Linked DNA regions of Homo sapiens. The protein of the gene in region 3 purifies or fractionates together with the protein of the main gene of each other region. This does not show direct contact. Each region holds a gene or a part of one and is shown on either strand. Other genes may lie near its edges.

Region 1 (4,270 bases), on a different chromosome or scaffold from region 3:
AGTCAGAACAGACACACCTGCTGAGTGCAGGTGAACACGCCTCCCATGCGTTGGATTCTGACTGGGATTATGCCGGTAGGTTAACCTCCAGGCCCGGAACTCTTCTGTGTTATCAGTAGGGGTCTCAAACTTCTTGTGCCACAGATCTCTTTGGCAGTTTAGTGAAGCCTGTGGACCCCCTTCTCAGAATGTTTTGTAATCTATAAAATAAAATACGGCTGGGCGCAGTGGCTCACGCTTGTAATCCCAGCACTTTGGGAGGCCAAGGCAGGCGGATCACGAGGTCAGGAGTTCAAGACAAGCCTGGCCAACATGGTGAAACCCCATCTCTACTAAAAATACAAAAATAAGCTGGGTGTGGTAGCGGGCTCCTGTAATCCCAGCTACTCAGGAGGCTGAGGCAGGAGAATCGTTTGAACCCGGGAGGCAGAGGTTGCAGTGAGCTGAAATCGCACCACTGCACTCCAGCCTGGGCAACAGGGCGAGATTCTGCCTCAAAAATAAAAAATAAATAAATAAATAAATAAAATAGGACTACAAAGGAACCAATAATACTGAAATACAGTTATCAAAATATTCAGAAAAAATTTTGACAGACTAATGTGTTTATTTATTTATTTATTTATTTTTGTCTTTTGAACCAGTGTCTTGCTCTGTTACCCAGGCTGGAGTGCAGTGGTGTGATCTCTGCTCACTGCAGCCTCCACATCTTGGGCTCAAGGGATCTTCTCACCTCAGCCTCCCAAACAGCTGGAACTACAGGTGCACATCACCACACTGGCTCATTTTTTACTTTTTGAGAGATGGGTATTCGCCATGTTGCCCAGGCTGGTCCCGAACTCCTGGCCTCAAGCTATCCACTGGCCTTGGCCTCACAAAGTGCTGGGATTACAGGTGTGCACCATCATGCCCGGCCCTGTTTCTTTTTTCTTTTTTCTTTTTTTTTTGAGGCAGAGTCTTGCTCTGTTGCCCAGACTGGAGTGCAGTGGCACAATCTCAGCTCACCACAACCTCCACCTCCCGGCTTCAAGCGATTCTCCTGCCTCAGCCTCCCGAGTAGCTGGGATTACAAGCACGCACCACCATACCTGGCTAATTTGTTTTGTTTTGTTTTTTGTTTTTGAGACGGAGTCTGGCTCTATTACCCAGGCTAGAGTGCAGTGGCGACATCTCGGCTCACGGCAAGCTCCACCTCCCGGGTTCACGCCATTCTCCTGCCTCAGCCTCCCAAGTAGCTGGGACTACAGGCGACTGCCACTGTGCCCAGCTAAATTTTTTGTATTTTTAGTAGAGACGAGGTTTCACCATGTTGGCCAGGCTGGTCTCGAACTCCTGACCTCAGGTGATCCACCCGCCTCGCCCTCCCAAAGTGCTGGGATTACAGGTGTGAGCCACTGTGCCCGGCCTGTTTCTTTCTTTACACAGTGACAAGACCTCTAATGGCAGGTCCAAGTAGTAATGAGCATAAATTATATTTCGAGATATCTGTAACAACTGATGTGATATAAAAATATCTGATTAGCTGGGTGTGGTGGCACGCACATGTGGTCCCAGCTACTTGGGAGGCTGAGGCAAGAGGATCGCTTGAACCCAGGAGTTTGAGGTTTGCAGTGAGCTATGATTGTGCTACTGCACTGCAGCCTGGGTGACAGAGTGAAACCCTGTCTTTAAATAAATAAATAAATAAAGTGACTCTACTGGGTACAAACAGGTCCTGCCAATACTAGATGTTTGCTTCCTATATTCATAAAAGAAAATGCAAAATTTCAATTTGAGTGAAAAATCTGCAGACCCTCTGAATTCTGCCGAGAATGTCAGGTGAAGAATCCCTGTGCTAAACGAAGAGCTGCAGTAAGTGCTGTGGCAGACACCCACCTCCAGAAAGTTCATGATGAGGAAGAACAACATGAGGAAGGCCGGTGCAAAGACGAGGCGGTCCAGGAGAAGCCTCCTGAGCCCTGCCAGGGGGACCTCAGGAGGGATCCAATGTTCCATGAAGAAGTAGAAGAAGTGACTCAGCGGCCCTGTGAAGAAGAACCTGAGGCCCCCAGGGGGTGTGAGCCAGATTGTGGTTCTCTGGATGTGCTCTTCTCTGGTCTAGCTTCACCCCCAAATCCCAGGTCCTAACCCCTGCTTCCTGATGTCCCTCAGTATTGGCCACACAGGTCTGTACAGATAAGTCGGCTTCAGGGGCGCTCTGTCTCTGTTGCTCTAACAGACCAGACTTGCTCCTGCCGTTGACTCTCTGCTCCCAGCGCGTCCCCGCCTAGCTATGTTGGCTCGCTCCTCCTCACACTGTCAGCTTCCAGGTCGTCCCAGCACGTGTGCACGCCTGTGCTAACACTCTTGGCCCTGGTTCATTTTCTGCCTAGCACTGTCCTTATCTCATATGTTAGGTTAGTCTGTGCCTCTCGTCCCCCCTAGAAGGCAGGCTCCACAAGGGAGGCTACGTCTTCTGTCCACTGCAGTGCCCAGAACAGGGCCAGGCTTCGAGAAGCACTCAATAATGAATCATCAGACATGTCCCTGGTTGTGGAGCTTTTCATTAAACTCACTAGGCTAACTGGCAAGGGAACTCACTAGGTTAACTGGCAAGGGCACTCACTAGGCTAACAAACTGGCAAGGGAACTCACTAGGCTAACTAACTGGCAAGGGCACTCACTAGGCTAACTGGCAAGGGCACTCACTAACTGGCAAGGGCACTAACTGGCTAAGGGAGCTCACTAACTAACTGTCAAGGGCGCTCACTAACTAACTGTCAAGGGCGCTCACTAACTAACTGGCTAAGGGAGCTCATTAACTAACTGGCAAGGGAGCTCTCTAACTAACTGGCTAAGGGAGCTCACTAACTAACTGGCAAGGGCACTCACTAACTAACTGGCTAAGGGAGCTCACTAACTAACTGGCTAAGGGAGCTCACTAACTAACTGGCTAAGGGAGCTCACTAACTAACTGGCAAGGGAGCTCACTAACTAACTGGCTAAGGGAGCTCACTAACTGACTGGCAAGGGCGCTCACTAACTGACTGGCAAGGGCGCTCACTAACTAACTGGCTAAGGGAGCTCACTAACTGGCTAAGGGAGCTAACTAACTGGCTAAGGGCGCTCACTAACTAACTGGCAAGGGCGCTCACTAACTAACTGGCAAGGGCACTCACTAACTGACTAAGGGAGCTCACTAACTAACTGGCAAGGGAGCTCACTAACTGGCAAGGGAGCTCACTAACTGGCTAAGGGAGCTCACTAACTAACTGGCTAAGGGAGCTCACTAACTAACTGGCAAGGGAGCTCTCTAACTAGCTAAGGGAGCTCACTAACTGGCTAAGGGAGCTCACTAACTAACTGGCAAGGGCGCTCACTAACTAACTGGCAAGGGCGCTCACTATCTAACTGGCTAAGGGCGCTCACTTAACTAACTGGCAAGGGCGCTCACTAACTAACTGGCTAAGGGAGCTCACTAACTGGCTAAGGGAGCTCACTAACTAACTGGCTAAGGGAGCTCACTAACTGGCAAGGGCGCTCACTAACTAACTGGCAAGGGCGCTCACTAACTGGCAAGGGCGCTCACTAACTGGCAAGGGCGCTCACTAACTAACTGACTAAGGGAGCTCACTAACTAACTGGCAAGGGAGCTCACTAACTAACTGGCAAGGGAGCTCACTAACTGGCTAAGGGAGCTCACTAACTAACTGGCTAAGGGAGCTCACTAACTAACTGGCAAGGGAGCTCTCTAACTAGCTAAGGGAGCTCACTAACTGGCTAAGGGAGCTCACTAACTAACTGGCAAGGGCGCTCACTAACTAACTGGCAAGGGCGCTCACTAACTGGCTAAGGGCGCTCACTATCTAACTGGCTAAGGGCGCTCACTTAACTAACTGGCAAGGGCGCTCACTAACTAACTGGCTAAGGGAGCTCACTAACTAACTGGCAAGGGAGCTCACTAACTGGCTAAGGGAGCTCACTAACTAACTGGCAAGGGCGCTCACTAACTAACTGGCAAGGGCGCTCACTAACTGGCTAAGGGCGCTCACTATCTAACTGGCTAAGGGAGCTCACTAACTAACTGGCAAGGGAGCTCACTAACTAACTGGCAAGGGAGCTCACTAACTAACTGGCTAAGGGAGCTAACTAACTAACTGGCAAGGGCGCTCACTAACTAACTGGCTAAGGGAGCTCACTAACTAACTGGCAAGGGAGCTCACTAACTAACTGGCTAAGGGAGCTCACTAACTAACTGGCAAGGGCGCTCACTAACTAACTGGCAAGGGCG
Region 2 (4,856 bases), about 28 Mb from region 3:
ATGAAAGAGTAAAGAGCCAAGTATAGTTAAGGCAATTTTAGACAAGAATCATTAGGAGGAGGGGTTTGCAAAATGTTTTAATACATAGAGTTGAGTGCATGGGTGTTCATTATATTATTATTTGTCCTTTCTGTGTTTAAAGTTGCTACAATTAAACTTTTAAACTTGTAGAAGAAAGAATAGTTTCTGATGTTATGTTGGGAAGAATCTTGTAAGCAAGAAAGCAAAAAGCACAAAATTAAAATGTAAAATATTATTAAATTCAAAAAGCTGTATACTGAAGCATAAAGCTTTTGGCAATCAAGAAACATCATAAAAACTGGAAAGACAGTCCATAAACTAAGAGAAGACATTTGCAACACATGTAACTTACAAGAGAGAATTAAACTAGAAAAAATAAATATTATCTACAAAATAATTTTCAAAAGCAAGCAATTTAATAAAAAATGAGATAAAATTAAGAACAGGCTTTAGCAAAAGGGAAAATGCAAATTAAAAGAGCAATCAGATGCTCTTATCAGCAAAAACTTAAAAAGTCTAACAATAGCATAAGGGTAACGATGTGCCAGTCTAGTTTATGGGAAATGGACTTGTATACAGACGAATCTCAAAACCTCTCAAAACCTAAATTAGTGAAAAAAGGGGAAAAATGAAGAATGATTCACATATGAAATATAAAACTAGGAAAATAGTATTTTTAGGGAATCGTACATATGTAACTATTTTCAGAAATACAACGGAATGAGTAATATAAAATTCAGCATAATGGTGAACGGAAGGAAGGAGATGTTTTTAGAGAGTCTTCTTTCTAGAAGACTCCAAAAATACTGGCATTTTTTTTTTCTTAAGCTCTGTAGTGGGTACCTGGGCATTTTTCATTCTTCTTTAAGATATGCACATGAGATATACTCATATGTATATTTCCCAATTAAAATTGGTGTACAAAATCTTTTTAAGGAGAGCCCTTATGAAACTGTTCACATCAGCAAGTTCTAGCTTGAATAAGGACTTCCTGTTACTATGTAACCAAACAAAAGATAGCATTTTCTTGTTTTCTGAAGCTAATGTAAGATGGAAACCTTCAGTTGTAATCCTATTTCAAAAGTTCTTGCTCTTCACATCTGACTTATCCTCAATTATTTCTAGTACTTCAGTACAGATGTGATTTTATAGAATACATTCGCAAATTAAAAACGCCATCTCCATCTGCCTACCTTGGGCTTCCAAGTAAAGTTCTATTTTTACAAAAATCAAAACAGTTCCTCAACTTTAAAAGTTTGAAAACCAGTGTACTTGTAAAGCACTTGATGCAAGCAACTTCTGAATGTTTCACATAAAAACAAACAAAAATGTGTCCTCTGTAATACAGTTAGAGCCTCCCAACAGAGCCTCAGAAGACCGTTTCTAAAGGCAGTGAGTTCTACTTGCAGAAATAGGGCGGGAGTGCAGTCTGACTCCAATCCACACGTCCTTCCCCTCTGACAGAACGCCCCAAAACGCAGTCCTCTCTTTCTTCCGCGCCGCTCCCGCCCTAGTCCTCTTAGACCCGCGACCGGAGGCTCCGGAAGACCCCGAGCCCCGCCCGCTCCGTGACCCCGCCCCCACCCGTCCCGCCCCTGAAAGCGCCCGGAACGCTGTGCGCGCGCCTTCGGGGAGGAGGGGCTGTCTGGGCTCGGGGCGCGGCGGCAGTCAGCTCTATGTTCGCGGTCTTAACCTCTCCTCTGGCCGAGTCCTTGCAAGAAGTGAATTACCCGACCCTGGTGAGTAGCTGCAGGAGTCAGACCTCTTGGAGGCGGCGGCGCCAGCAGCGGCGGCAGGCACGAGGTCCACCGCGGGCGCCTGCGCGCTCGCCCGCCAGCCAATCTGGTGGCCGCTTTCCTCCGGGCGCCCTTTGACCCGGCGCCCCTCTGGCAGGCGCTGGTGGCGCCCAGCGGCGAGCCTGTAGCCCCCTCGATTAACCTAGGCTGTCACTCTTAGGCCTGTTTTAGTCTGCGTTAGTTTTACTGCCTTTTACACTGCTTTATCCCCACCTCACTGGCCTCGTCGCCGCCTCCTCTTTGAAACGGTACCTCCTGTCGCCTCGGATTTTCCTTGTCTCCCCGACAAGGTGGAAATTTCGGGTCGGATGGAAGCCTTTTTCAGCACCTTCTCCTTGTGCCCCCAGACTGCCTCTGGGCCTTGAGCCGACCGGGAGAGTAGAAGGATCGAGGCCTGCTGGGCTCTGGGTGCAACGGAAAGGTAGCTGTCGCCTCTGGGCATCGGGAGGAGACCGCCCGATGGCGAGGCCGCTAGAGATGGTTTTTCAGTTCACCTGTTAACGTGTTTGGCACTGTCATCTTAGACTCTTAGCCTTTGCTAAGTCGGGATGCAACAGTGCTGGATTAGTGTTTTTGTTGTTCCTTTTTCCAAAGAAGCAACTTGAAGTACAGGCAGGTATAACTGTTTGGTTTTGTTGTTGTAAGACCCTACGGATAAGTGTTAGGAGAAAATGTGGAAGTGCTATAAAACAACAACAAGGGGGGGATAATGTTGATTAAGAACTTGAAAATAAGAAAAATGGGACTGGAATAGGCTGTTCACGTTAAAGTATTGAGGCAGTAGTTTGAAACAAAAATATAAAGTAAAACCTAGATATTGGTGATACTGTATCACGTTGTTTGCAAATCACTTTCATGACAATACATCTATTTCAGGTGTATCACACCTGAAAAAAACATGAGTGCTGTGAATTTGTGGATTTTCAGGCTCAATGCAGAAAAACACCCCCCAAAACAAAAAATCACAACAATGAAAACACCATTTCCAGAGCTGTTGCTGTTATTCGTGTGACGAATAGTGAATGTATGATCATAAAATAGAATAAGCTGTCTTTAGATGAAGTTTGGGCACAGTTTATGGAGTAGGTAACAGTTAATCATTGTTTATTAGGTACATAATCCTTAATTGAAAACATAACCATATAGCAGCAGCTTTCATCTTGTGTCACAAAAATAACTGGTGTATCCTCTAAATTTGATTTGTCTAATACCTTAAAGGAAGGCAGAATAGCATGGACAAGAACTTGAGTTCTTGAGCCAGACTCGATCTGCTCCTTGCTAGGTGATTAACCTTAGATTGGTTTCTTGGCCATTTGCTGGCCCAGAGATTTTTGAAAAAGTTACCAACTGCTCAGCTTCATCATTTGTAAAATGAGGTTAAAAAAAATTCTGCGGCCTGGCGCGGTGCCTCACGCCTGTAATCCCAGCACTTTGGGAGGCCGAAGTGGGTGGATCATGAGGTCAAGAGATCGAGACCATCCTGGCCAACCAACATGGTGAAACCCTGTCTCTACTAAAAATACAAAAATTAGCTGGGCGTCGTAGCGTGCGCCTGTAGTCCCAGCTACTCTGGAGGCTGAGGCAGGAGAATCGCTTGAACCCGGGAGGTGGAGGTTGTAGTGAGCCAAGATGGCGCCACTGCACTTCAGCATGGCAACAGAGTGAGACTCCATCTCAAAAACAAAACAAAACAAAACAAAAAACAGAAACTAAACCTCACTGAATTTCTGTTAACCAGAGGGTACAAGTGTTTACAATAAAACTGACCTGGGCAAGGATTGATTTTGAAACTGATTTTGAAAGTTCCAGATGTGTCTTCTAGTATTGAGTTATATTTATCTCCGGTGGCTTCATACAAAATAAAATTAGAAGAAAACAATATATTTTTTAAAAAAAGCACCAGAAGTCTGTGTGATTTAATTTAGTTAATTGAAAGGGAAGTCTTTTTGGCTTTTGTGAGTTACATGATAAAAGCAAATAATTTTTGAAGTACTAATTCATACCACCCTGCTTCTGAATCTCTTGGGGTCTCTTAGCTAGCTGGATATGTCCAATAATTTTTTATTAGACATCACTAAGCTTCAAGTCAGCATTTCAAAGGATTAAAAGCACAAAACTCAAAAAATAGAAGCTACAGGTTCAAAAGAACCTATTGTGTATGAGTAATGTAAACAGTCTTTTGAGGAGAAAACAGATTTTCAGTAGCCAATACTTTGAGTAGGTCCCTGCCTTGGAAAGATATATCTGCAATAAACTTGTAATATTTTCTCTATGGTGACTTATAATACTTTTCTTTTATTGAAGCTAAATTAGTTCCTCCACCCCTTTCCTGCAAGATCAGACATTTTAGGCATCTCAAGGGTCATTGTGGTTTTACAGCGTTGAAGATGATTTTTTTTATTAAATTGGATTTTTAAAATTATTGGATCTTTACGATTCTTTATAATATGTTCAGTATACACCGTAAACTTATCAAGTGTGTATACGGTCAGTAGTCTATATATACACACACACACAGATATACATATATATATATACACACACACTGCCTGAATACCAATGAAACAGCAAAGAGCCAGAAATTAACTTTTTTAAAGCTGAACACTTAATGAACACTATGTGAAAGATATGTTATGCTCTACTAGAATGTGAAGATAAAGACTCCATTTCTGAAACTTAAGGAGCAATCTAGTAGGTGATATAAAGATAAATGCACAGCATGATATAATACATAAGGAATGACAATTTGGCCGGGCACGGTGGCTCACACCTGTAATCCCAGCACTTTGGGAGGCAGAGGCGGGTGGATCACGAGGTCAGGAGATCGAGACCATCCTGGCTAACACGGTGAAACCCCATCTCTACTAAAAATACAAAAAATTAGCCAGGCGTGGTGGCAGGCACCTGTAGTCCCAGCTACTCGGGAGGCTGAAGCAGGAGAATGGCATGAACCCTGGAGGCGGAGCTTGCAGTGAGCGGAGATAGTGCCACTGCACTCCAGCCTGGGCAACAGAGTGAGACGCCGTCTCAAAAAAAAAA
Region 3 (4,270 bases):
AAATTGTCCTGCCATTCTAACTTTCATAGTTCTGAGATAATAATTTATATAATGTTAATTTGCTCATCATTGTAAGTACTTTTTCCCCAAATAAACATCCTTCTTGGAATAACACATGCTGTCCATTTCTCTCCTTCTTGATTCTCAGGAAGCAGTGATAGATGTCATTCAAATGATACCTAGTTGGTGTTCCCTGTGGAATAGTAACAAAGGGAAAATACATTCTGGGTGCAGAATGTCAAGAACAACAAAAAATTTTTAAGAAACCTGTAATGAGGATGGGGCACATGTGGTCCAGTACTCTATAACAGATTCACATTAGCTATACTTTCTCTGCCTGCCACAAATATCAAATAGTTGTTTTAAAAGAAAGAATGAGTGAAGGAGCAAAGTGTGTGGCAGCTGGAAAATTCGTTTCTCCTTCCCCACAGACCTCCTAGAGGTCATCAGAAAACTAGGGAGCAATGTCTGACTATGCCAACTCTTCCTACTCTACAAACAGATTTAGATGGGTTCATAAAAACTAGATTATTTGATGGGTGTGTGTGTGTGTCTGTGTGTGTGTGTGTGTTTATGGTAGGTGTGTATATACATATGCATCTTATCCCTAATGCTTTAAGCAGAAAAAGAGATGTATTATTTCCATATACAATATTGAGAGTAACTACATTGAATATATTCATATGTATACTATGTAATTAAATAATTACTAATAAATATGTGTCCCATGTGAAAATCTGTTTCCAAGTGAGTAAAGGACCTATGAGCCTTATTTCTTTAAAAAGAAGTATTTAGAAATCTATATGAAAAGAATGCCTCAAACATATTAGGTCTAACTTAACTATGTGAATGAGTATTCTCTTGCCCAAAAAGCTAACTCAACAGTTAGCTTAGTTGAGCTAACTCAACTAAGTCATCATATAAAATTTTCAAAACCAAAGCCTCAGAAATTAAAAAAAACTATATCTTTATCTTGCTTAGCTAAAATCATAATGTAATTAGTTTTCTTTAATTTAAAAATGCTCTTAATTAAATCTTTGCTTAGTAACAAAAAATGAAAAATAAAATGACATATTTATATGTCTGATCTGCCATTAGAGGTTAAGTTTTGAATACTTACCTAATGATACATTTATATAATTGATGGCAATTGTTCTCAATACTGAGACTTGCTTTAGCAATTGCAATTGTTTAGCTGATAAAATCACATTTGTGCTTTTGTTTTAAACTCTAAATGATATTTGAATGTCCTTTTAATAGATAAATAACTCTTTGTGTAGAAATAAAAATAGTAGACTGAAAAGGGATATGGTAATATAATGCTGTCTTTAATAAATCTGATTACTGATAGAAATGAAATACAATATTTGTGGCCTGGAAAATAAACATTATTTTAAAGTGTTCCGGTGATGAGTTTTTATCAATAAAATGTGGCTCCCAAATCCCCAAAGATATGAAAAATTAACATCAAAAAATACATTCACATTCCTAGTTGTTAGATAAGTATTTTGACATTTCCAAATATAACTGGCATCAATTTTTACACTCTGTATTTATGGTTAAAAATTAGAATGTACTTTGTAGGTTTTCACTGATTTCATGTGATTATTTTTCTTTTTGAACAGCAATCTAAAGTGTAAAGGATTTCAGGATCTAAGTAATCATACCAGTGAATCCAAAGATTATTTCTGCTGTTTTTTTACCACAGTAAAATATTATATTCAACGTATTTTCTCTTTACTTACTTCATCCTTTTTGTCTACCAAAATATTTCATTAATGACATAATTTTGATGGAAGTAATAATTAACTTTTAAATTTTTTTCATGGTGATATAATCACCTTGAAAATTGGAAAAAGTTTTAGAGCTCCTAAGTTTTAATATGACTTATATCTTAAAATAATAAATTAAAATTATCTAAATTTAAAGGTTTGTAGATCACTAAAAAAAGAAAAAATCTTTCCTTTTTAAAATATATATTTTTAAAATATGTATCTTTTGTCATATAAATCAGAGTTGACAAATACTACATGTGAATCAAAGTTTACAAATGCAAATTCAAGAGAAAAAAGATGAAAATACAGTACGAGTGCATTGCAAATTTCATTTCTTGTGCCTTATGAGGAAAAATTAATTTCAGTTTCATCCTCCAAATAGCCTGCTCTGTAATAAAATTGTAAGATTTCTTAAACTAAAATCTAATAGAAACCAATTCTTTGATACAGTCCTTAGATAACATTAGTCAAAAGTGCTACAAAGTAAAGAAAAATTTGGTTTTGCAATGTCTCCAAGAAACACCAATTACAGGAATAGTCTCTACATGTTAGATCCCCGTATTCTGTAAAGGAGTCTCAGGATTATACAGCAAACTGGAGTCAGGAATGGACTTAGGAAAAGAAACATTCAATAAGGGCCAGAGATGTGGTACGATAAGACCCTTAGTTGCCCTCCTAAACCTTCAGCTCTGTATATTCACATAGCAACCTTCCATAAAATAAAAATTCAGGTTTATATGCCACCTCCATTGAAGTGATATATTTTTGCAAAGTGGGGATGTAAGTTTGACATCACTCTTGCTGAAGAATGGCGAAATATGTCACATTCAGAGCTTTCTAAAGTTAGAAATTTAGTCAATGGAAACTGAAAAAGAAACTTGAGAACTGTCTTCTCTATAACATCTTGCCTATTAAATAAATTTAATAATTGGATGTATATTCTAAATGATGTGCTCTTGCCAATGCAACAGTAATGTATGGATAGTTTTTATGATATTTACTCTATATGATTCCAACATGTACCCCTTCACAAACTCCTTAGGAATTGCTGTCATTTTGGGGGACCACTTTCCTCCAAAGAGTATGACACATACAATCTTTATTCCACCTCTTAATAGACATTCCATATCTCAAAAATTCAACATTTATCCCCAATCTTTATATGATTTCGGATGCTACCTCCAAACCCCTTTTAAAAATACTTCAAAATGCCCCTTTAGATCTGTGAACACATTTTAGTATTTTTATAAATAAATATTAATTCCCAATTTACTGTATTTCTTTTCTGATATATTTACTTTAATGTCTTTTACCCCCATTTGAAGTCTGATTTTGGTCTTTTTCAACTTTTAATTTCACTGCATGTGCTTCTTGCCCAATATTCTCTTAGAACCTCCGGCAGCCTCCTGCTCTGAATGTTTACCTTTCTGTTCATGCTTTGACACAGCTGCTTTCTCTTTGTCCTCCTTTTCTTTGGGTTTTGATGGTGTTTTCTGTACTTCTTTTACTTTTGCAGCTGTTTGCTTCACTTTCTCCTGTTTTCCACCTTTCACTTCCTTTTTAGTCTTTTCTTCACTCTTTTCTGCAGTCTTAGCTTTCTTCTGTTCTGTATAAAGTTAAAAGATGTTGAAATACTTTTGTTTATTTACAAACATAATGTTTCATCTGTACTATGTCATTAAGGAAAATTGGAAAAGAAAGAGGGAAGAAAGGTAAGTCACAAGTGTTTATGTTAAGAACAGTATTTTTCAGGAAAACAATGAAAAATACTGTTCTTAACATAAACACTTGTGACTTACCAGAGTTTTATACAGTTTATGAAGTGCTATATTAGATAGACTACTAAAAGTGTTATGGCTTTTAATTTGTACATGAAAACACTATTTTTTAAGGCAATAGTAACTTAGCATGTCAACAAGGAGGCATTTGTAGCATGCAGGGGATGGATGTACAGGAATTTCTGTGAAAGACAATTTCCATACCAAACAGCCCAGTGAAGTAGTCTCCTTTTATAAGCACATGATCATTTTGCTTGATAACTGAAAGATCTTAAGGGTCATTCAAGAAACTGAAATGCCAACAAAGTCTTTTTTAAAGACAACAATTAGTAATGCAAGTGTAAAATTATCGCATTGGTGTTGACTAACAGAAATAAAACAATGAAATCCATTAGAAGATAACTGAAAGACCTATAGTCTAATGATTTGGCCTTAGAAAAACTGAAAGTGAAGAAATTCAGATATTGGCTCCTGTTTATCTTAAGTCAGCGATAATTCTACTAGTTTTTAAAGCCCTTAAACATATCATGGGAAATTCAAAGGGCTATAAATAAAAATATATATGAATAGATATATAAATTAGAACATATATATATTACACACATATATTCTTAATTTGATATTATCCGTATTTTGGAAGAGGGAACTGTGATGCAAATAACTAGTCTGTGGATCATTCAAGCATCTTTTAAAAAGCAGTAATAATGTAGCACATAA
Region 4 (4,270 bases), on a different chromosome or scaffold from region 3:
TTCTTCAAAACAATTAAAAAGTACAAAATGATTTCACAAATATTTTGTTATATAATATTCCCAAATCAAGCACATATTTACCAAATCAGATACGAATGTAAATTTCTTTAATGAACTGGATTCCTTGCAGATGCATTTCTGTTATTTATATCAAGTCAATGGAAATAAATTATATCTTCAAAATAAAATCAATATAGTGATTATTCCAAATTAACAATTCAGATAAATAGTACAATGCTACAAGGAAACAGTATCTCTGAAATGTTCCTACTATACATCTTTCCATCTAATCTAAATGTTTTAATATTTACATAAATGTCCATCCAGAGAATACGAACTGACCTACACTGTCCTAGATGCCCTGCCATTCATAAACCAAAGGTACCATTTTTATTTTGGCTATGCACTCCTAAACACTTACCTAAGTGTGGCATTCTGTATAAGTCAATTTCAACTTGGCATCTGTTATCTCTGTAAGGGAGTGCTGAGCATGACAATATATAGTCTAAAACTGACTTGGTGAATATACAACATGGAACTAGAAGAAATCCTAAACTGAAAATCACCTGCTTAGATTACTATGCTTTACAAATAACAGGGCCATAAATCGTGAAGGACTAAGCACAGTGGGAAAAAAAAAAGCACTGAAACACAACTGCAAAATAGAGAAGTGCTGAAAACGAAAAGTATGGCTAGCGATTTTCAGGTAAAGAATATGATTAAATATTAAAACTACAGATATAAAATTCATTTCATCTTAAAAATATGGAATATCTAATTTTGTTTTATTCAACAAACATGTATTGGGACAACAAATATTTATTATATGCCTTATAACCAATTAGTAAACAATATGTACTATGTGCAATTGTTGGTTGACTTCCAAACCACTGCATAGATGTAAACATTTTCTCAAATTATGCAGTAATTACAGAGTAAAAAACTTATACACATATTAAAATAGAAATCTAATTTAAAATGTTTATTAATCTCTAATATAAAGCATCACTTCATCCAAACAGAAAATCCTAGGAAAAAAGTAGGTATATTTAAATATTACCATAGTAGTCTTAATTGGGGGAAAAAAAAAAAAAAAGCAAACAAACCTCTACAAATCAGTCCTTCCCCTATTACACAGGCTAATAATTATTTTTCACATGTTGATTTTTAAGACCCTATGAGGTATAGAGGTGCCTTTGGAATCATCAAATATTAAATTACATTTTGTTAAATTTTGAAATCATCTGTATTGTTTTCTGAGTTTATTTTCAGCTAATACTAAAATGTATAATCAATGTCCTTATAGATTATCTAAGGAACTAGAACACACTTAAAATACTAAGAGTACTTTAAACAAGACATTAGAAACCTGGAGGTTTAATTACCAGGTGCTTTTTAAACACAATGCATATGCCACCAGACCCTCCTGACTGGCGGAAGCATGGATTGTCCTGAGAAACCCAACATCTCTGCAACGCTCTTGAGGCAACTTCCACTCTCTCTTCAAGGACTTTTGTTCAGTTGGCTCCCTCTGCTCCCTTCAAAACTTTCAATGGCTGCTATTCTACTGGCCTCTAACCAAAAAAGTTAAAAGTATGATCAAATTTTCATCTTAAAAATATATTTTCAATCACTCTCTGTGAATTCTGAGAGCGAGTACTTGTGAAAGCAAAAATGACTACGGACCTTCTAATCACAAATCCAAGTCCTGGTTTCCATAAAACAGGTAGCATTTGTTAAACACAAAGGAGTAACCTCCCAGGCATTGTGCTTGATAGATTTTATCTCATCTGATCCTCACAGTAGCCCTATAAAGTAGGTGCTTCTCCCCTCATTTGCTAAATGAGGAAATGAAACTAAATTGTGAGCTCAAGGTCACAGAGCTATTCGGGGCTCGAGAGGGGGTGGGAACCGAGACTGTCTAACACCCCCTCATTTCAGTACCTGACCTTCTCACTTTCTGAAATTTTCTCAGTTTTCAGCTGCTTTTAAAAGTTACACCCTCCTAACTCTCCTCTTGCCTCTCTTGTTCTGTACCTTCTCGTTTTTCTTTATTGCTTCCTATTTCTCTACCCAACTCTTAAATTTTAGGATCTCCCCAGGCCTCTGTTTCCCTATTAACTTTTGGTACTTGCCCTGGAAAACCTATCAACTTTCACGGTTTATAATTACCTATACACTGAAAACTCCTAAATGTTTCTGTGTGTCTATCCATTTATCTACCTACCATTTATCTACCTGCCTATCTAGCCCAGGACCTCTGTGCTCAGAACTCACATACAATGATTCACTGGACACACATCTCCAGTTCGATTTTCTATAAGCACTTCAAGTTCTACATGTCTAAAACTGAACTCTATCACTCTTGCTCTCAAATCTGGATCTCCTTTTAAGTTCCCATCCCATCCTCCTATACCACCCACTCCCAATCCTCCAACCAAATTGGTCACCTAATCTTAGAGGTTCTACCACCTGAATATCGTTGTAACCAAACCCCTTTTTTTCATCCCACTGCCAACACTTTGGTACAAGGACCTCAACCTCTCTTACCAAAGCCACCCCAATATCTTCTAAACTACCATCCAAATCTCACATTCCTCAGATCCATCCTTCTAGATTGCTTGCTGTAAGAGCTGTTTTCTCATCACATAGCTCCTCTGTTTAAAACAACCTTAAACTGAAAATAGTCCATACTCCTGAGAATGGCAAACAGCCCTCCATGATCTTGCTCCTGCCTCCAGTGATTCATCTTTTATGTCACCCTCTAAGAAACCCTCAAATCTCCTGTCCCCACACAGAATTGACCACTTCCAAATTTCTGCTCAGGGTACTGTGTGTGTATCTCTATCACGGCACTTACAGAACAGCCAGCACTATACTGTAGATATTGAAAATAGCCTGTTTCCTCCTTGTCTCCCCCTTTTAAACCTAGAGCCCTCCCAGGGCCTTAATTGTATGCACATCCCCAGAGCACAGTGCTTGGCACACAGTATGCTTTTAACAAATATTTGTTGAATAAAAGAATGAATGTTTGTGAAATGCTTCAGATTAAGGAGATATGATTACCACTGTTTTCAAGATCAAATTAAACCATTTTAATCATATGTATTTGATTATGTACCTCCTCCATAAGTAGATTTGCAAAATAATATTTAAATAATTCATGTAGCCTCAAGTATGGTTAGCAGGATTCTCAAATCATACTTCTTATTCTGGACTTCCGGGGTAGAAAAATATTAACTACACTACATTATAGTTAGTAAGTTTCAATGGCAGAAAGTAATATGTAAAATATTCTAGTATACATATTCCTAAACAAAGACGATCTGGGCCTATCATAAGAAAGTAAACTTTTTTTTAAAGGCTGCTTCAGTTTCTCAGAAACACCAAGATATTCCAGAAGACTGAATTGTCTGAAATTAATACACCCTCCTAAAGATCTCATACACAAATTTTTTCTATAAAAGGTACATTAAAACCTTTTATATAGAGGTCACCCTTCTGGAAACCTAAACATTTCAGTTCACAGTCCAAACCACAAATAAAGCACGTAAACTGAAAGTGTCTGTCACAAAGTCTACAGGATTTACACTCGGGCAATAGCCCACATCATTTGATGGAAAAAAAGACAACAGATAATAGAGCAGCAGGGCCCACTCACAGTCTGACAGCAGCAGAAAGTGATAGCCAATAACAGAAAGAGGACCCAGAAAAAAAAAAAAAACATAAAAAGAAGAATGGTACTTCTGTCTCTATTCTAGTATTTCAACCCAGCAGGCTGAGACCATTTACTATAAACAAAAACAGCTCTATACACCTCAGCGAATAGCACTATTCAATTCTTTATGAATTCATAAAGACAACCCAACAAGAAAGAATAACTTATATCCAATATTCTCCAAGGGAACAAGGAAGACAGTAAGATTTAGAAATTGCTTGTGGGTTATAATGGCTCTTTTTTTTTAAGTTTCAGTAATAAACGGTGTGAAGAGTCAGCTACCGAGAAAATGTGCTTATGTAAATAAGTACCAATGCAGATGAGGTCAAATAAATGAGATACTATATCTTGCATAAATAATCAAAGTTCTCACTCTCCAAGGATATCTTAGAAATTCCCAGGTGTATGTTGGAAAATCCTAGTATGAATTAAAAAGCAACAAATTGATATTATTTGATAAACAGGTGCATGATTTTAAAAAGGATTTGAGGATTGAAGATGGGATTTTTAGCAATATTTAAATGGTAATGAAGCTGATAGTTGTTCATAAGG
Region 5 (4,994 bases), on a different chromosome or scaffold from region 3:
CAATGACGTTTGGCTTATTCTATGACCTGAAAATTATATGAAATGCAAATTTGTGTCCATAAGTAAAACTTTATTGAAACACAATCATGCCATTTGTTGACAAAAAGAGTGAAACTCTGTAAAATATGGGCCGGGCGCGGTGGCTCACGCCTGTAATCCCAGCACTTTGGGAGGCCGAGGCGGGCGGATCATGAGGTCAGGAGATCGAGACCATCCTGGCTAACACGGTGAAACCCTGTCTCTACTAAAAATATAAAAAATTAGCCGGGTTTGGTGGCGGGAACCTGTAGTCCCAGCTACTCGCCAGGCTGAGGCGGGAAAATGGCGTGAACCCGGGAGGTGGAGCTTGCAGTGAGCCAAGATCGCGCCACTGCACTCTAGCCTGGGCCACAGAGCGAGACTCTCTCAAAAAAAAAAAAGAAACTCCGTAAAATATTTAAAGAGGTTAATTCTGAGCCAAACGTGAGTGACCACGGCCCTAGGCACAGCCTTTTTTTTTTTTTTTTTTTTTTTTTTTTGAGACAGTCTCGCTCTGTGGCCCAGACTGGAGCTATCTCGGTTCACTGCAACCTCCACCTCTCGGGTTCAAGAGATTACCCTGCCTCAGCCTCCCGAGTGGCTGGGATTACAGGCGCCCACCACCACGCCCCTGGCTAATTTCTGTATTTTTAATAGAGATGGGGTTTTACCATGTTGGCCAGGCTGGTTTTGAATTCCTGACCTCAGGTGATCCAGCTGCCTCCGCCTCCCAAACTGTTTGGGATTACAGGCGTGAGCCACTGCGCCTGGCCAATCCCCACCTTCTTGACTGACCATTTAAAAAATGTAAGAAACACCTTTAGCTCATCATGAGCAGCACAAAACAGGCAGGGACAGGATTTGGCCCTGAGGCAGGAGAATAGGTCTGGAGGCAGGGAACATAAGGCCAAATCAAATGGAAACAATTCAGCTATGACAGGAAATATCTTCTCCATTTAAAGAGGGCATACATCCAGTAAATGACTTTGTAACTTTACTTCATCCTCTTCATTTACATAGGACGTACATTAAGTAACCAGTGAAAACCTCTAGAGGGCATTTAAACCCCAGAAAATTCTTAAACAGGTCTCTTGAGTCCGTATGCTCCACTGGCTCCCACCCTGCGGAGTGTACTTTCGTTTTCAATAAATCTCTGCTTTTGTTAAGCTTCATTCTTTCCTTGCTTTGTTTGTGCACTTTGTCCAATTCTTTGTTCAAGATGCCAAGAACCTGCACACCTTCAACAGTTAACAGCCCACAGGCAGTAGTTTGCGACTCTAGTAGAGAATGCATAGGGATTTCCATTGAAAATCATTTTTTAAGCCAGTTACGGTGGTTCACGCCTATCATCATCCCAGCACCTTGGGAGGCCAAGGCGGGTGGATCTCTTGAGGTCAGGAGTTCGAGACCAGCCTGGCTAACATGGCAAAACCCCTGTCTAGACCAAAAATACAAAATTAGTTGGGCGTGGTGGCCCGTGCCTGTAATCCCAGCTGTTTGGGAGGCTGCGACACGAGAATCGCTTGAACCCGGGAGGGAGAGGTTGCGGTGAGCCGAGATCGCGCCACCGCACTCCAGCCTGGGTGACAGAGCGAGACTCCATTTCAAAAAAAGAAAAAAAATAATTGTTCCCTACGGGAACGGTATAATTAGGATATAATTGTTTCTGGCCACAGATCACATCCCTTCTGGTTAAGTCCAGGAGAATCTGGAAATACGTAGGGCAACCAGGCCAGAAGGCGTTGTAACTGCCTAAGATTGACCAACCCTAACGCGGGAGGCGGGACGACGGTCACTGATTTGCCAGCGTGACGCCGGTCTGCGACTGGCCAGTGCCGTCCTGGGCGTGTCGGTAGGACGGGGCTGCGACGGTTTCCCATAGGCTGGCACAGAAAGGGGCGGGGAAACAAGAGTGCAACGTTACCAATCGGCATGCGGGACGTAACGCAATTCTTTTTTCCGATTGGTCCGTGAAGCTCGGGAGGTCGTTGGGGGCTCGACCTTGGGATAGAACGCCTGCCTTTTATTGGTCAATACTCTTCGGGCCGGGCAATGTGGCTCCCCGAGGCTGCCTGCGATTGGTGAACGCGTCGCGGCTCGGGGCGGACCTGCGGACTGAAGATCCTTATGCGATTGGCCGGGGAGCCGGAGGGGCGGGCAATTTGGGATCGACAGTGACTCGCGACTGGTCGGCGCGGCGAAAGCAGAGCGGCGCGCCGGTTCCTTGGTTCCTGAGGGCGATGGCGCGGGGTGGCTGGCGCCGGCTACGCCGCCTGTTATCCGCGGGGCAGCTTCTATTCCAGGGCCGCGCGCTGCTCGTCACTAACACGCTGGGCTGCGGCGCGCTCATGGCGGCCGGTGATGGCGTGCGCCAGTCCTGGGAGATCCGCGCCCGGCCCGGCCAGGTTTTCGACCCACGGCGCTCCGGTGAGGACGCCACGCTGCTTAGTCCTTCACCCCGGGCGACCTTTGATCCCGACACCCGACTGCGGGCCGTGACCCCTGACCCGTGGCCTCAGTCCCCCGCAGGACCCTTGCCCTGACCGCGCCTCTCCCCGGGTGTCTGTCTCCCCGCAGCTCTGGGTCTCCATCACCTCCCAACCCCCGGAGGTCTCTGCCCACTACCCAGGAGCCTCTGGAGCCGCGCCTCCTGGTGGGGCTTGTAGTGGAAGAATGCACGGGTGGGCTCTTCCGGTTTTCCCGGTGAGGCTGAGGCTCCGGGATGGCATTGGGCTTACCCAGGCCTTAGCCAGGGAGGGAGAGAGGGAATGGACTGAGGAACTTGCCGGCCCGACCCAGCCCCCTGACTTACACTCTTATAGCGAGCATGTTTGCGGTGGGCTGCAGCATGGGTCCCTTCCTGCACTACTGGTACTTGTCGCTGGACCGCCTATTCCCTGCGTCTGGCCTCCGAGGCTTCCCAAATGTCCTCAAGAAGGTCCTCGTGGATCAGCTGGTAGCCTCTCCATTGCTGGGCGTCTGGTACTTCTTGGGTAAGGAGCCTCCTAAGCCTAGGCTTTGCCTCTCATAGGTCGGGAGGGGTGGAGCCAGCTTTGTGTTAAGAAGGATGCAGAGGTGCATTTCCAATTTGCCCCCTGTTTGGGTCGCCCTGGACTAGGAGCCAGGTCACAGCGGGGACAGGACGGACTCGGCCGATGTGAACGCTGGCGAGTGTAGGAGGGACGAGGACTGTATCTGTTGGGGCTGCCCTGGGCGGGAGGTTGAGAGCATTTCCCAAAGAAGGGGACCACACTCAGTTGAGACATGAAGAGGGAACCAGCGGGCAGAGGGAACAGCTAATGCAAAGGCTCTGAGGCCTGAAGGAAGAGAAATTGAGGCTAGACTTAATGGGGTGCAACCGTGCCAGCCCTAGGCTCGGTAAAGACAGCGGTATTAATAGAGGAGTCTCTCATTCTCCACCTCCCAGCCCGGCTTCCTGGTCTGTGATGGAAAAGTAACACAACTCCCTCAACTTCAGGGTGTCTCCATTGGGGCACGTGTTTATATGTTTATAACCTCTCTTTCTCTCACTGGGACTGACTTGCTCTGTTTTGTCTCTACACCAGCTACCCTAATTCTCTGTCCATCCCATCTGAAAGTCCCTGTCCCTCTGCCCGGGGTGGGCGGCGTGGGCTCTCAGGGGCCCAACCCCGCCCCCTCCATCGTCAGCCCATCTTGTCGTCTCAACAGTACTTCCTGGCCTCTAACACTCTCATTTCTTGGTTTGCTTCCCAGGCCTTGGCTGCCTGGAGGGTCAGACAGTGGGTGAGAGCTGCCAGGAGCTGCGGGAGAAGTTCTGGGAATTCTACAAGGTGGGAGCACCCGCCCCTTGCACATGTCCGGCCCCGCCCCCTGATGGCCGCTCCGCCCCCGCCCAGCTCTGGCCCCGCCCCTCATCCCCCGCCTCTCCCCGCAGGCAGACTGGTGCGTGTGGCCTGCTGCGCAGTTCGTGAACTTCCTCTTCGTGCCCCCCCAATTTCGAGTCACCTACATCAACGGCCTGACGCTGGGCTGGGACACGTACCTGTCCTACTTGAAGTACCGGGTGAGTGTGGAGGGCATACCAGGCACCCAGGGGACTCCCCAGGGGGCTACACGTGTGAGCTCCAAGTGGCAGTGTAGCCAGCCACCCTGGAGGGTGGGAGTCTCCTGTGCTCCTGACAACCCACACCCAACAGTGGGCTGGCGGAGAGCTCCTCACTAGCAGTTAAGACCCAGCCGTGGCTGAGCGCCGTGGCTCATGCCTGTAATCCCAGCACTTTGGGAGGCCGAAGCGGGTGGATCGCCTGAAATTGGAGTTAGAGAGCAGACTGGGCAATATGGTGAAACCCCTTCTCTACTAAAAATACAAAAAATTACTGGTACGCACCTGTAATTCCAGTTACTTGAGAGGCTGAGGCAGGAGAATTGCTTGAACCCAGGAGGCAGAGGCTGCAGTGAGCCAAGATCATGCCACTGCACTCCAGCCTAGGTGACAGAGCGAGACTCCGTTTCAAAAAAAAAAGACCCATGCCGGGCGCGGTGGCTCACGCCTGTAATCCCAGCACTTTGGGAGGCCGAGGCAGGCGGATCACGAGGTCAGGAGATCGAGACCGTCCTGGCTAACATGGTGAAACCCTGTCTCTACTAAAAATACAAAAAAAAAATTAGCCGGGCGTGGTGGCGGGCGCCTGTAGTCTCAGCTACTCCGGAAGCTGAGACCGGAGAATGGCCTGAACCCGGGCAGCGAAGCTTGCAGTGAGCCGAGATCGCGCCACTGCACTCCAGCCTGGGCGACAGTTCGAGACTCCGTCTCAAACAAACAAAAAGACCCAACCCTTCTCTGCTGTCTGATGTGACCTCAGCCCGGTCCCTGCCAAGTCTGTTGAGCAGGGCTGACCTCTGGCCCAAGGGCAGGTAGAGGGACAGGGAGGGATGAGCCAGGCTTCTGACCAGATGCCTTGTCTTGTGTGGACAGAGCCCAGTTCCTCTGACAC
Region 6 (4,270 bases), on a different chromosome or scaffold from region 3:
TAATCTCACTTATAAAATAGACATAATATAAGCAAAACTTCATCTGTGAAGAATACAGTAAATAACCTGGAAAATAAAACCTCCAAGTAACCAATATCTCAGAAGTACTCTAATTCCTATTTTCCCTTAGAATAAAAAGGAACAAAACCTCAAACTTCAAGTGATGAAATGTTTACATAATTTTCTTCAATGTAAATTTTGTTTTCAGTAATTATTTGAAAAGAGAAGGATGAAATAAAATTGAGGAGTTGGGTTTAGTTTTTACTAGTTTGGTTTACTAATTTAAAAAAGAATGCCATTGGCCGGGCGCGGTGGCTCACGCCTGTAATCCCAGCACTTTGGGAGGTCGAGGCGGGTGGATCACGAGGTCAGGAGATCGAGACCATCCTGGCTAACACAGTGAAACCCCGTCTCTACTAAAAAAACACAAAAAATTAGCCGGGCGTGGTGGCGGGCGCCTGTAGTCCCAGCTACGCGGGAGGCTGAGGCAGGAGAATGGCGTGAACCCGGGAGGCGGAGCTTGCAGTGAGCCGAGATTGCGCCACTGCACTCCAGCCTGGGCGACAGAGCAAGACTCCGTCTCAAAAAAAAAAAAAAAAAAAAAAAAAAAAAAAAAAAGAATGCCATTACTAATGAACATCCATGTTAGTTCAACACAGTGCCTGTTAAACAAGATACAATAAAATATTTTTAATGTATTAAAGTAGTAATTATTTGTAAACCAGCAGGACTCTTTTGTAAACATTTTTTATTGCTAATATTGAAAACCCTGAGCAGAAAAAGAAGAAATGGCTTTTTCAGAATAACCCTCCTCTAAAATTAGTTGACTCAAATCAGTTCTCCCTATAAGTTTCAGCGATCTCTATATGATCTGCACTACCTAGAAAGTGAGGAAGAAAGAGAATATAGTATATCAACAGAAACAAACGTCACTCTTTTTTTCTCTTTAACCTTCAGAAAAAAAAATCTTCTTTGGTTAGACTGCTCTCCCAAAATTGAAATAAATGTGAAATCCTATTCTTAAATTAGCAGAGATATAATTATCAAATCTGAGAAATTGGACTGTATTAATAAACTGGGGAGAAAAGTCCTTTCTCAGACATTTGAGGACAACTGGAGTTGCACATTCCACCGACATCCTCACATATCTGGCAAGTTTGACATAATACTGCCCTGGCTTTACAGAAAAATATTTCTCTAAAGAGCTCTAAGTACTTTCAAACACTTGTCATTTATCTTCACAATATCCTAGTGAGGAAGGTTAGTGCAGATAACTCCTATCTCCACCTCAGAGATGGAAAAACTGAAGATCTGAGTCACTGGAAGATTAATCCAGTAAACTGGCAGTCTGACAAGGGCAGAAAATAGAACCAACTGCCAGGCCAGTGATCTGGTCATGCTCTCTTTAGTTATTAACATAAGAGCCTGAGAAAGAATAAGAGTCCATGAAGATACTGAACCTGTCTGTTGAAGGAATACCCTGAACAGAGTGAAGAGGCTCATATATGAAGTCTACTCATATCAACTTAATTATTCCCATAACTTGGAGGAAAGTTTTCTCAGTCTTCTCTTTAATGTTAAAAACCACTTTGTGAGCAAAGGACATGAACACACACATCAAAAGAAGACACTGATATGGTTTGGCTGTGTCCCCACCAAAATCTCATCTTGAATTCCCACGTGTTGTGGGAAGAACCCGGTTAGAGGTAACTCAATCATGGGGTCAAGTCTTTCCCGTGCTGCTCTCACAATAGTGAACAAGTTTCACAAGATCTGATCGTTTTAAAAAGAGGAGTTACCCTGCACAAGCTCTCTCTCTCTGCCTGCTGCCATCCATGGAAGATGGGACTTGCTCCTCCTGGCCTTCCACCATGATTGTGAGGCTTCCCCAGCCATGTGGAATTGTAAGTCCAATTAAACTTCTTTCTTTTTTAAATCAACCAGTCTAGGGTATGTCTTTATGAGCAGCATGAAAACGGACTAACACAAACATATATGTGGCCAACAATCATACAAAAAAAAAAAAAAAACAACTCAGCATCACTGATCATTAGAGAAATGCAAATCAAAACCACAATGAGATATTATCTCACACCAGTCAGAAGAGCTATTATTAAAAAGTCAAAAATAACAGATTCTGGCGAGGTTGTGAAGAAAAAGGAATGGTTATACACTGTTGGTGGGAGTGCAGATTAGTTCAACCATCATGAAAGACAGTGTGGAGACTGCTCCAAGACCTAAAGATATAAATACCATTTGACTCAGCAAAATCCCATTACTGGGTATATGCCCAGAGGAATAGAAATCATTCCATTATAAAGACACATTCACTGCAACACTATTCACAATAGCAAAGACATGGAATCAACCTAAATGCCCACCAATTATAGACTTTGATAAAGAAAAATGTGATACATAAACACCATGGAATACTATGCAGTCATAAAAAAAGAACAAGATCATGTCCTTTGCAGGGGCATGGATGGAGCTGGGGGCCATCATCTGTAGCAAACCAACACAGGAACAGAAAGTCAAATACTACATGTTCTCACTTATAAGTGGGAGCTAAATGATGAGACACATAAGCACATAGAGGGGAACAACACACTGTACGGCCTATCAGAAGGTGGAGGGAGAGGAGCAGGAATATAGCTAATGGGTACTAGGCTAAATAGCTGGGTGATAAGATAATCTTTACAACAAACTCCCATGACACAGTTTACCTACGTAACAAACTTGCTCATGTACCCCTGAACTTAAAAGTTTAAAACAACCACTTTGTCAGAAAGATAACCATATTGCCTATTTTTTTATTACAGATGATTGGAAAAAAAAAAAACAACCTTTGTAGAAATTAGTGGTAATGGTAACTACTTCTGATGTCTCACTTATGAGATATTCTTAAGGCTTAATTTTTATAAAGAACAAGAATATAAAAAGGTGTATTATTTGACTAGCACTCATACCCGTAGGAGTGTCAAACAGGTCATTTAATTCAAATTTTGACATGCTCTGTGTAGACCTAGCACTGCTCCAAGTTAAAATATATTATTAACTTTAATATTTGAGTGGGTTGACTGTCACATAAAATCCTCATGATCATTTAACGTTCTCACCCTAACCCCCGCAAAATCCCCAACCTTGAAAAACTCAGATACTACAACTCCTTGAAGACAAATAAACCTACATGAATAAAGACAAAGCCATTAAAGCCTTTCTCAGACATACTAGCAGCGGCCAGGTGTGGTGGCTCACGCCTATAATCCCAGCACTTTGGGAAGCCAAGGCGGGCGGATCACCTGAGGTCAGGAGTTCAAGACCAGCCTGGCCAACATAGCGAAACCCTGTCTCTACTGAAAATACAAAAATTAGCCAGGCGTGGTGGCGGGCGCCTATAATCCCAGCTACTCGGGAGGCTGAGGCAGGGAGAATTGCTTGAACCCGGGAAGCGGAGGTTGCAGTGAGCTAAGATTGTGCCACTGCACTCCAGCCTGGACGACGTAGCATGACACTGTCTCAGAGAAAAAAAGAAAGAAAATACTAGCAGCAGTTCTCAAAGTTTGCTACTCAGACCAGCTAAATCAGTTAGAAATGCAAATCTTTAGGCCTCACTCCAAATTAACTAAATCAGAAACTCTGGGCCTGGGACCCAGTAATCTGTGTTTTATCACGCCCTACTGGCAATTCTGATATACTAAAATTTGAGAACTACTGCTCTCCCAGAAAAGTTGGCAATATTAAAAGCAGGTCCCCTCTTGGCAACTTGACAGAGAAAGTGACCTAACCATAGATTACCAGTTCACGCCCCTTACCTCCTGCACCTCTCGGGTTGGCTTCTCCCTTGCTGTGTTGTAACCTTGTGGAGAATGTGCCACCTGGGTCACATTTTGCTGTTCTGCTGGATCAGGTTTTCGAAGGCTTGGAATCCTATTCAGAGTATCTTTCAGTTGTTTATATTCTGCAACTTGAGTCTGCATATAAATTGCACAATTTGAGGAGGGAATCTATGAATGCCCATTCATAGATGGGCATTTGGGTACACTGTAAAACTAGACAAAAATATTGTACCTAAATACAAGTTAGAAAAACATACAGATTGTTTCCATGCATTCACTATTCTTACTTGGGCATGCTTAATCATTTTTGAGCGCATGCAAATTAGAAACAGAGCTGAAGGAAACAGAAAAAATATCTAAGACAGATGTTAGTTTCCCATACTACACTGAAGTCAGAACTTTTGTAAATAACTTACTAATATAAATATCACTAT
Region 7 (4,270 bases), on a different chromosome or scaffold from region 3:
TGTTGAGAGGAAAGGAAAGGAAAGAGTCACTGAGTGTGATGAGGCTGATGACCAACACAGAAAGGATCCGGTGGGAAAATTCCAGACTCATTTTTTAAAGATCAAAATGTACTGAAAATCTCCAGATGGACTCTAAAACTAACATATTTCATGAAATTTCAGAGCTAAAAGGGACTTTCTGGATTGTCCAAGTTATTGTCTCCCGATAGTAGCTGGATGACTATCTCACCGAGTCCATCTGTCCAGCTTGCCTTCCTGTACTCCGGAGGTTGTAGGGAGTTTTCCCAAAACTCCCTAGTGACTTAGGATTCCACCGATAAGATGCACTTGTGCAAAGCTTTAATTCAGAAGGGAGGGGCAAGCCATGAGGCATCCACTTGCTGGCACGAATACTGGCAGAGGTGGCACAGCTCTGAAGCTGGCATTCATGACAGCAACTGCCTAAATTTGTAGCTTCCTGACCATGCCAGTGTCAGCAGCTACCTTGAAGGCCTGGTTCTGGGGTGGAGTTCTGCAAACTGTCCTGGAAGTACAATCTAGAATCTATTTTGTCATTCCTGCCAGTGATTTTTGAGCTCTTTTATTACTCCTTAAAATATCCCTTTCTGTAATAAGCTTAGTTGGTGAGGAATCTGTTGTCTGCAACTAAGAATCTGGTCGATACCATGGCAGAGCTTTTAAATAATCAGACGCTATCTTTATGACTTTTGCTAACAGAATTCTTCACATTGAGGGTGCTCAACAAAACTTGGTGATGATGACAACAGTGACAGCATAAGAAATGCCATTTCTTCTCAGTTAATGTTGTGGAATTATAGAAGCCAGCTGGAAATGTTCACAAACTGGCAAAAACTTGAGGTCTTTGACGAAAAAGCACAAAGCTCTTTATAGACTACACATGGCAGACATTTAACTGCAGTTTGCTTTGTCCTGGATTTATTCATTGTGATGAAGAAACTAGAGACTCAGTATTTTTACTTGAATTACAGCAACCTAAATAGGATTTTTTTTGGTCTTTTTTTTTTTTCCTTTTTATGGAGAACAAGGTCTCACTATATTGCCCAAGCAGGTCTCAAACTCCCGGGCTCAAGCTATCCTCCCACCTCTGCCTCCCTAAGAGCTGAGATTACAGGTGTGAACTACTGTGCCCAGCTAACTAGGATTTTTTTAAACTCCAAATTTTATAGCAAGTGAATGGTGAATCAAGAAAGTGATTCCAGAGACAAACAATGTAGTAAGCCCCATTTTAACACAGGTGGTGATTCCATGGGTCAGGATTTGCAAGTCACATATTTATCTGACATGTAACCAGCTCTCACATTGTTTTAACCAAAAAGCATAAGCACAAAGACACAAAACATTCATTTTTTAAATTACAGAATTTTTTTTTTTTAATAAATAGTGACAGGGTCTCACTATGTTACCCGGGCTGGTCTCCAACTTGTGGCCTCAAGTGATCCTCCCACCTCAGCCTCCCAAAGTGTTGCAATTACAGGTGTGGGGCTCCACATCTGGCCAAAATATTCTTTCTAAATTCATGATTTGATTTTTACTAAGAGTTGTTTGCTTGCTGACATTGTTGTCTACTACAGGGAAGATAGAAGTAAAATCATGTGCTCTTTGCTCTTAAAGATGTTATAATCCAGTTAAAAATAAAATAAAAACTAGAATGAGAAAAATCATCCATTAAGAAAATCCCGGCTGGGCGCGGTGGCTCACGCCTGTAATCCCAGCACTCTGGGGGACTGAGGAGGGTGGATCACGAGGTCAGGAGATCGAGACCATCCTGGCTAACACGGTGAAACCCCATCTCTACTAAAAATACAAAAAAAATTAGCCGGGCATGGTGGCAGGCGCCTGTGGTCCCAGCTACTCGGGAGGCTGAGGCAGGAGAATGGCGTGAACCCGGGAGGCGGAGCTTGCAGCAGTGAGCTGAGATCGTGCCACTGCACTCCAGCCTGGGCAACAGAGCAAGACTCCGTCTCAAAAAAAAAAAAAAAAAAAAAAAAAAAAAAAAAAGAAAATCCCTACTAGGTCAAAATAGTTTCAATGGAACAGTCACATAGAAGTTAATCACTGGCCAGGCACGGTGGCTCACACCTGTAATCCCAGCACTTTGGGAGGCCAAGGCGGGTGGATCACGAGGTCAGGAGATCGAGACCATCCTGGCTAACACGGTGAAACCCCAACTCTATTAAAAATACAAAAAATTAGCTGGGCGTGGTGGCAGGCACCTGTAGTCCCAGCTACTCGGGAGGCTGAGGCAGGAGAATGGCGGGAACCCAGGAGGCAGAGCTTGCAGTGAGCTGAGATCGCGCCACTGCACTCCAGCCTGGGCGACAGAGCAAGACTGTCTCAAAAAAAAAAAAAAAAAAAAAAAAAAGAAGTGAATCACTGATGGCCAAGTTAACTGTGTGCACAATAAGCATTCAATGGCTCACAGGCAGAGGCAGAGGTTCTCCAGGAGCTCCCTATCACTCCTGCGCCCAGCACGCGCACTGGCACACGGTGGTTCTCCAGGGTGCTGCTGGAGCACCCCAGGCACTCTGTCCTGGCTGCTGAGCACAGCCTCGTCCACCTGCTCCCAGTAGAGGGCATGTCCAGAGGAGATACCCGCATGGGAGATGAGGAGGTAGATCTGGGGAAGTCACTCTGGGCTTGAAGAGGTAGGACACATTACACACAAAAAGCTCTAAAGGCCTCTGTATGAGCTGTCATGCCCCTGCAAATGACACCTTCTGTTTGAGGGATTTCTTTCCACTGGCACTTAGAAAAGAAGGTACTCTACAAAATAAGGTATTTGCATGGTTTGAGCATCTCCTAGGGCGCAAAAGTGGGAGCAGAGCTCGGGAGAGTCCCTCGGTGCTACAGTGTGGTGAACTGCTTACCAGAAGCAGGGTCGTACAACCTCAGCAGGAGTGAAAGCACTGTTGATTTGCCAGAACCACTTGGGCCAACCAGTGCCGTGACAGATCCTGACGGAATGGAAAGGCTGAAATCCTGAAATATGGGCACCTCTGGGCGAGCTGGATAGGCAAAATGCACGTTCTTAAACTCCAAAGCACCCTGGAAGCTTTTCTCATTTAAGATGACCCCCTCTGAAACATAAAATGGAATATTAATTACTTACAGCAAAAAATTAAACTCAAAAGCTGAACTCGGTTCTCCTACTCATCTGGCTATGGATGGGTGACTCCACCACAGCTAATCCTGGTATATGAGCTCTTAAAGGGCAAGTCAGAAGCAAACCTAGGCTAAATGCTTACCACGTGCCAACTCTGCACCTACTATGTCCAAGGTACTATATACGTAGACGGTCTTACTTGATCCTTACAACCCTGAGAGGTAGAAATTATAATTCCAATTTTGCTGATGAGGACATTGAAGACCACAGACAACAACCTGCTTAAGCTAACAAGTAGTGGAGTTAAGATCCACCCTTGTTAGTCTGGTTTCAAATCCGATGGCCTTCTCTCTATGCCACTGCCTCTGTGTAGCTCCAGAGTTTATCTTACCTACCCGGAATAAATATTTTGGAAGAGTTATGATGAAACGGGGAGCGCTGCACAGCAGCCGCAGAACTGGAGGGGTCAGAGGTCTGTTCTGCCCTGGTGTTCACCTACTGTGCTTTGGGAGACACTACTGAAACTCTCTCAGCTGGACCTATTTCCTAGGCCTATCACATTGGAGAATATTGGGCTTTCATTTATGGACCTGGGGCTACCTGACAATGTCCTAGGAAGTCAATAAGCAGCTGGGAGTGGTTACTACTCATAGCCATTTCTCCTGATTCCTGGCTAGTTGGTTTAGGCCCTACAGCTCCAGGGAAGTCACTGATAAGGAAGGAGATGGCTCCAGCCAATGAGTACCAGCCTCCCCTACCCCACACCAAAATGCCAAGAAACTTAGATATTTTCTTATGTCTGATTCCTCCTCCCTTATTCCCACCCTAGCCCTCCACAGAGATGTCAGAATCACTAGGGAAGATCAATTTGGTAAACTAGCTGGGACACAGCCCTGGGCCACACTGACTTCCATCCTGCCCTTTGCGGTAACACCCAGATGGAGGGAGGGGAACAGAGGGCAGCACACTATGTGGCCAGCCCATGCATCCAGGGACACCCTGGCCCACAACAGTGCCCCAGCAGCTGTCCCACCCCCTCTCATAGAAAACCTGACCACCTCCTCACCCGGCCCGCCATGCAGCAGGAGCCACATCCTTACTGTGGCTCATCCCTCACTCCCTTGCAGACAGGGGAAGAGCTGGTCT

Evidence for each region.
Region 1: the proteins of TRDN (region 3) and PXMP2 purify together in Homo sapiens (co-immunoprecipitation; 3 studies listed by BioGRID and IntAct, with this or other methods). This does not show direct contact.
Region 2: the proteins of TRDN (region 3) and MANEA purify together in Homo sapiens (co-immunoprecipitation; 3 studies listed by BioGRID and IntAct, with this or other methods). This does not show direct contact.
Region 4: the proteins of TRDN (region 3) and UGT8 purify together in Homo sapiens (co-immunoprecipitation; 3 studies listed by BioGRID and IntAct, with this or other methods). This does not show direct contact.
Region 5: the proteins of TRDN (region 3) and MPV17L2 purify together in Homo sapiens (co-immunoprecipitation; 3 studies listed by BioGRID and IntAct, with this or other methods). This does not show direct contact.
Region 6: the proteins of TRDN (region 3) and GOLIM4 purify together in Homo sapiens (co-immunoprecipitation; 3 studies listed by BioGRID and IntAct, with this or other methods). This does not show direct contact.
Region 7: the proteins of TRDN (region 3) and ABCB10 purify together in Homo sapiens (co-immunoprecipitation; 3 studies listed by BioGRID and IntAct, with this or other methods). This does not show direct contact.

What each region holds. Positions count from the first base shown.
Region 1 is NC_000012.12:132,693,652-132,697,921, reverse strand, and holds part of PXMP2 (peroxisomal membrane protein 2), read right to left. Parts: intron 2,039-4,270; coding exon 1,876-2,038; intron 1-1,875. UniProt on the Homo sapiens protein: Seems to be involved in pore-forming activity and may contribute to the unspecific permeability of the peroxisomal membrane.
Region 2 is NC_000006.12:95,575,879-95,580,734, forward strand, and holds the start of MANEA (glycoprotein endo-alpha-1,2-mannosidase), read left to right. Parts: upstream 1-1,656; 5' UTR 1,657-1,760; intron 1,761-2,344; exon of another isoform or gene 2,345-2,433; intron 2,434-4,856.
Region 3 is NC_000006.12:123,500,521-123,504,790, forward strand, and holds part of TRDN (triadin), read right to left. Parts: intron 3,382-4,270; coding exon 3,199-3,381; coding exon of another isoform or gene 3,131-3,198; exon of another isoform or gene 1,308-3,130; intron 1-1,307. UniProt on the Homo sapiens protein: Contributes to the regulation of lumenal Ca2+ release via the sarcoplasmic reticulum calcium release channels RYR1 and RYR2, a key step in triggering skeletal and heart muscle contraction.
Region 4 is NC_000004.12:114,601,284-114,605,553, reverse strand, and holds part of UGT8 (2-hydroxyacylsphingosine 1-beta-galactosyltransferase precursor), read right to left. Parts: intron 1-4,270. UniProt on the Homo sapiens protein: Catalyzes the transfer of galactose to ceramide, a key enzymatic step in the biosynthesis of galactocerebrosides, which are abundant sphingolipids of the myelin membrane of the central nervous system and peripheral nervous system.
Region 5 is NC_000019.10:18,191,024-18,196,017, forward strand, and holds the start of MPV17L2 (mpv17-like protein 2 precursor), read left to right. Parts: upstream 1-2,194; 5' UTR 2,195-2,258; coding exon 2,259-2,445; intron 2,446-2,840; coding exon 2,841-3,011; intron 3,012-3,753; coding exon 3,754-3,830; intron 3,831-3,934; coding exon 3,935-4,063; intron 4,064-4,975; coding exon 4,976-4,994. UniProt on the Homo sapiens protein: Required for the assembly and stability of the mitochondrial ribosome. Is a positive regulator of mitochondrial protein synthesis.
Region 6 is NC_000003.12:168,033,024-168,037,293, forward strand, and holds part of GOLIM4 (Golgi integral membrane protein 4), read right to left. Parts: intron 3,972-4,270; coding exon 3,813-3,971; intron 1-3,812. UniProt on the Homo sapiens protein: Plays a role in endosome to Golgi protein trafficking; mediates protein transport along the late endosome-bypass pathway from the early endosome to the Golgi.
Region 7 is NC_000001.11:229,527,311-229,531,580, forward strand, and holds part of ABCB10 (ATP-binding cassette sub-family B member 10, mitochondrial), read right to left. Parts: intron 3,099-4,270; coding exon 2,889-3,098; intron 1-2,888.